2 separate regions of the Homo sapiens genome follow, and region 2 is linked to region 1. The links come from fine-mapping of genetic effects on gene expression. Tissue or cell type: whole blood. Region 1 holds a variant in brackets; the other region holds the start of a gene. All regions are shown on one strand. Distances are from middle to middle.

Region 1 (2,682 bases):
ACTGGCAGAATTAACTTGCAGACTAATAGACTCAACCAAAATTTTAAATGTTCATTATTAAAGGATGCAATGAATATGCTCTGATAAAGTGATTGGCCAGCCTTTTCTTTTCAGTTATAAATAAACAGAGCTAGCAGTTATGTGTACATGGATCCTGGGAGACATACCTTGCAGGATCTCAGCCTCACCATACCTCCTATAAAATGGTTGTGCTTGTCCTGCCTATTTCTTAGCCAAGAGAGAGCTAATCCATATTTTTTAAGCTAAAAGTCACTGTAAAAATACTGGATTCTGTTGACTTCATTGTAGTGAATTTGTTGTTAAAATGTATGCTTATGAAAGAAAAAAAAATTTAATAGCCCAGTAATGAATTAATTGATAATATTTTATCAAATTGAGATATAATTCACATACCATAAAATTCATTTTTTAAAAATATACAGCTTAGTGGGTTTTAGTACATTCACAAGAGTATGCAACCATCACCACTATCTAAATCCAGAATGTTTTTATCATGCCCCCACTAAAAAACCCACATCTCTTAGCAATTATTCTTGCTACCCCTGTTCCCCTGTCACCTGGCAACCACTAATCTACTTTCTGTCCCCATGGATTTGCCTATTCTGGACATTTTAAATAAATAGAATCATGCAATATATGGTGGTCTTTCGTGGCTGAGTCTTCCATGTTGTAGCATGTATCAGCACTTCATTCCTTTTTATTGCCAAATAATACTCCATTACATGGATATACCATGTTTTATTTATCCATTCATCATTTGGGAGATATTTGAGTTGTTTCTACTTTTTGCCTGTTATCACTAATGCTGCTGTGAACATTTGTATACAAGCTTTTGTGTAGACATGTGTTTTTCTTTGTCTTGAGTATATACCTAGGAGTGAAATTATGGGTCATATGGCAACTCTGTGTTTACCCTTTGAGGAACAACCAGACTGTTTTCCAAAGTAACTGTACCATTCTACATTACTACCAGCAATGTATGAAGGTTCCCATCTCCACATTTTCACCAATACTTGTTATTGTCCATGTTTAACATTGTAGCCATCCTAGTGGATATGAAGTGGTATCTCATCATGGTCTTGATTTGCATTTCCCTAACTAATGACCTTGGAACATCTTTTCCTGTGCTTATTGGCCATTTGTATATCTTCTAGGAGAAATTTCTGTTTAACTCTTTGCTCATTTTTAAATTGGGATTTTTGTCTTGTTATTAAGTTGTAATGATATATGATTTGCACTTTTTTTTTCCCCCATTTTATAGGTTGTCTTTTCACTTCCTTGATGGTGTCTTTTGAAACACAAAACTCATTAATTTGAGTTCAGGTACGCTGGCTCACACCTGTAATCCCAACACTTTGGAAGGCCAAGGAGGAAGGATCACATGAGCCAGGAGTTGGAGACAAGCCTGGGCAACATAGGGAGACCTCATCTCTGCAAAAATATTTAAAATTAGGTGGCGCACGCCCATAGTCCCAGTTACATGGGGGGCTGAGGTAGGGAGATCACTTGAGCCTGGGAGGTTGGTTGAGGCTGCAGTGAGC[C/T]AAGATTGTGCCCCTGCATTCTGGCCTGGGCATCCAGGAGTGAGACCGTGTCTCAAAAAACAAAAAAAAAATTTTTTTTAAGGCCAGGTGCAGTGGCTCACGCCTGTAATCCCAGCACTTTGGGAGGCCCAGGCGGGTGGATCACCTGAGGTCAGGAGTTGGAGACCAGCCTGACCAACATGCAGAAACCCTGTCTCTACTAAAAATACAAAATTAGCCTGGTGTGGTGGCTCATGCCTATAATCTCAGCTACTCAGGAGGCTGAAGCAGGAGAATCACTTGAACCCAGGAGGCAGAGGTTGCGATGAGCCGAGATCGCACCATTGCACTCCAGCCTGGGCAACAAGAGTGAAACTCCGTCTCAAAAACAAACAAAAAAAATTTAAATTGGCCCGGCATGGTAGCACACACCTGTGATCCTAGCTGCTCAGGAAGCTGAGGTTGGGAGGATTGCTTGGGCCCAGGAGGATGAGGCTGCAGTGAACCATAATTGTGCTACTGCGCTCTAGCACAGGCAACAGAGTAAGAGATCTTGTCCCCCCCAAAAAAAAAGTTTCTAGTTTTAATGATTATTTTCTAATTTTTCTTGTGCTATTTTTGCTTTTGGTGTCATCTAAGAAACAATCACCTAATTCAAGTTCACGAAGATTTACACCTGTGTTTTCTGAGAGTTTTATAGTTTTAACTCTTACATTTAGATCTTTGATCCATTTTGATTTTTTTTTTTTGTAATAGTGCAAGGTAGGTGTCCAGATTTGTTCCCCTGCATTTGATTTCCACTTGTCCCATCACCATTTGTCGAAGACTGTTCTTTGCCTATTGAATTATCGTGGCACCTTTATCAAATTTGAACATATAGGTGAGGGTTTATTTCTGCATTCTCTGTTATATTCCATTGGTCTGTATGTCTTGTCTTTATGCCGGTACTGCAATTTTTTTAAGTTACAAATTGAGTTTATATTGCATATATTTACAGTACAAAGTGATGTTATGATCCGTGACTACAATGTGTAAAAATTAAATCAAGCTCATTAACATATCCATCACCTTAAATACTTATTTTTGCCATGAGAACATTTGAAATTTACTCTTAGCAATTTTGAAATGTACAATAGGCTAT
Region 2 (2,682 bases), 50 kb before region 1:
GCGCATCTTTAGACCTTTAAAACCTAAATTAAAAACTATCAGTACCGAGGAAGGGCCGAAGAGCTCAATACCCACCCAATACAACCCCCACTTCCGACCTACAGACGCTCTGCTGAGCGGCTGGGAGAATCCGTCGCGCCAGTCAGGGCCCGGCTTCTTCCAACAACAGACACTTTGCGAGCCTTCCAGAAGCCTTGGCTAAGCGAGAAGGCAGGGTGGAGGCCGCCACTGCGAGGACGGTCCCCACCCAGCTGCGAGGAGCTCGCGGTTCCCCAGAGGGGCGGGCCTGCGTCCGGGTAACCGTGCGCGACGTCCACGAGTTTTTAGGACGACCAGCCCTTCAGCCTCTAGGCCCCGACGCCTGCGCCATTTAAGCCACATATCCGCCCGCCCGGCCGCGGCCAAGGCCGGCGGCAGCTACGTAGCCGCCGCCGCCCGGGGCCCCACAGCCCACGGGCCGGATGGACCGAGCGCCGGCTGCGGCGTTCCGGTGCGCGCGCGCGCCTCAGCCAATCGCGTTCTCGCCCGCCCCCCGCCGCGGCGGCGAGGCTGGCGCTGGGAAGAGGAAGAAGAACATTCGCCCTCCTCCTACCAGCGCGCGGGCGGCGGCGGCGGCGGCACCGGGGTCACGAACTCTGACCTTTCACTGACAAAAACAATAACAAACCCCCCCTTCTCCGCGACCCCGGCGGCGCCCCCGGGCCCGTCCCCGCCACCCCGCTCCCACCTCGGCGTCTCGTCTCTCGCCCGCTGCCCCGCGAGCCCGCGGCCCCCGGGCTCCCGCCATCCGCCGACACCGGGAGCCCGGGCTCCCCGCGCCCTGCCCTCCGCGCCGGGGGCCGCCCGCCGCAGACACGGGACCCGCTTCGAGGCCGCTTTGGCGCCAAATCCTGAGGTAAAATTGAAAGAGGGTCGGGCGGGCTCGGGCCGGCGGCGGAGGGGGCGGGCCTGGCGCGCGGACATGGAGGCGCCGCGGCGGCGGCTGAACCCGACCCTTTTACCTTTGCCACGGGGTGGCGGCGGCGGCGCCCGGCGCTTTGCATAGTGGGCCGGGCCGCTCCCCTCCCCTCCCCGCCCGCGGCCGGGCGAAGCGAGCGGGTTCCCCCTGACCGGCCCGGCCGGCGCAAGGGTGGGGGTGGAGGGGGAATGGCCGCGGCCCCGCCTTATAGTTGGCCCTCCGCCAGCGCCGCCATTTTGTTCTCGACGGAGATGGCTCCGGCTGGGCGGGCTCCCTTCCTCCTTATCCTCCTCCTCCTCCCGCCTGCAGTCCCTTCTTCCTTCTCTGCCGGGATTTTCACCCCTCCGCTTCTAGTCCGCCTTTGGCGGCCGTCGCAGCCCAACCGCCGTTTTTTCTGAAGGGGAGGGTAAAAGAAAAGGAGGAAGGCGGGTGCGAGGCGCGACCTCGTGAGCGACGGATGGGCTGGCTAATTGGCGCCCAGATAGGAGGGCCGGGGCCTGTGGCACCGCCCCCCTAAGCTTTGCTGATTGGCTGAGGCGGAAGAGGGTGGTCCTTATGGGGCGCGGGAGCCCTGGCGGGGCGGGAGTAGAGGCCGGGGCGAAGAGTGGGGCCGGGTCGGCGGGGGCGGGGCCGGGGGCGGGGCGCGAGGGGCGCGGCCGGGTGGAGAGGCCGGCGCCTGGTCTTGGGTCAGCAGGTGGGCTGCTTCCCTCCGCCTGGAACGCGTCTCGAATGAGTACTGAGGAACAATAGTAATAAAGGTGATGAAGCATTTCGAGTCCACGATGCGCTCTCGTGGGAAGAGGTTTTCGGAACCAGGACACTTTTCAGGGCTCCTGCTCGTTATTTCGCAGCGGCCTTGGCGAATCCCCTAATGAGGCTCAATTTTATCGACTGTAAATGGGGGGCATGCGCATTCTTGCCAGGCCGGACCTCCCTTCTGAGCATTGTTTGTGGGGCTCTACTCAGAAAATGGAGGCAACGCTACTTTGCGAGCTTCAGAGTCACTTGAAAATGGTGTTATTGTTAAAAATGGGATTACAGCCACCAGGAGAGGCAAGCGTTAAGGGTATTTGGGGTTTGAGAGAGCACAATTCGGGAGTGATTCTCTTCTCATTCGTTCGCTGAATACATGTTGACTTAGTTTTTTAGGCACTGGGGACACATCTGGAGAACCAGCTGTACAAGACCCCTGCCCTCACTAGAGTTGGGGGCTGGGGGGTGAATAGACAAATAATTCCAGAGAGTCATAAGTTCTGTGAAAGAAAAGAAGCCAAATGACCTGCTGAAGAAGACCTGAGGCGTTAATTTAGATGGAATGGTCAGGGTGGCCTCTCTGAGTAAGTGATGTTTGAACAGAGGAACCCAAGGGAGGAATGGCATTCCAGACAGGACATCCCGTGTAACGGCCCTGGAGGAAGAGCATTTGATGTGATCGAGAACTGGCTGCTTGTGGCTGGAGAGTTGGTTGGAACTAGTAATTGTCCATTATCCCACTTTGTTTCCAAGCCAAAGGCTGTGAAATATAGCAACGGTAGTGAGGAACAAATCTTCAATGTAATAAGAAAGTCGAGGAAAATACAGCCTTCATATGAATTACTGATGAATACATGACTTGGGAGGAGGGCCTCAGAAACTCACTTTACTTCCAGATTCAAATCCTTCGTCAGCCTCTTATATACATTTTCAGTTCATCAAGTATTTCCTGAGTGCTACGAATACTCCAG

Evidence for each region. PIP is the estimated chance that this variant, and not a neighbour inherited with it, causes the effect.
Region 2: FGD5-AS1 starts here. The variant in region 1 is fine-mapped to the expression of FGD5-AS1 in whole blood (INTERVAL, PIP above 0.99).

Annotation. Positions count from the first base shown.
Region 1 is chr3:14,997,392-15,000,073 of GRCh38, forward strand. All of the region lies in intron 1 of NR2C2 (nuclear receptor subfamily 2 group C member 2), which reads left to right. Among named protein-coding and RNA genes, the nearest start is that of FGD5-AS1, 50 kb to the left of the region's middle. The variant C/T (reference allele first, on the strand shown) is at 1,563.
Region 2 is chr3:14,947,012-14,949,693 of GRCh38, forward strand. FGD5-AS1 (FGD5 antisense RNA 1) reads right to left here and starts at 1,430. Exons shown (of 2, transcript NR_046251.1): 1 at 1,002-1,430. NR2C2 (nuclear receptor subfamily 2 group C member 2) reads left to right here and starts at 572. Exons shown (of 14, transcript NM_001291694.2): 1 at 572-895. RefSeq lists enhancers at 1-412, 1,101-1,788, 1,235-1,434, 1,789-2,476 and silencers at 195-624, 675-744, 765-1,184, 1,575-1,634.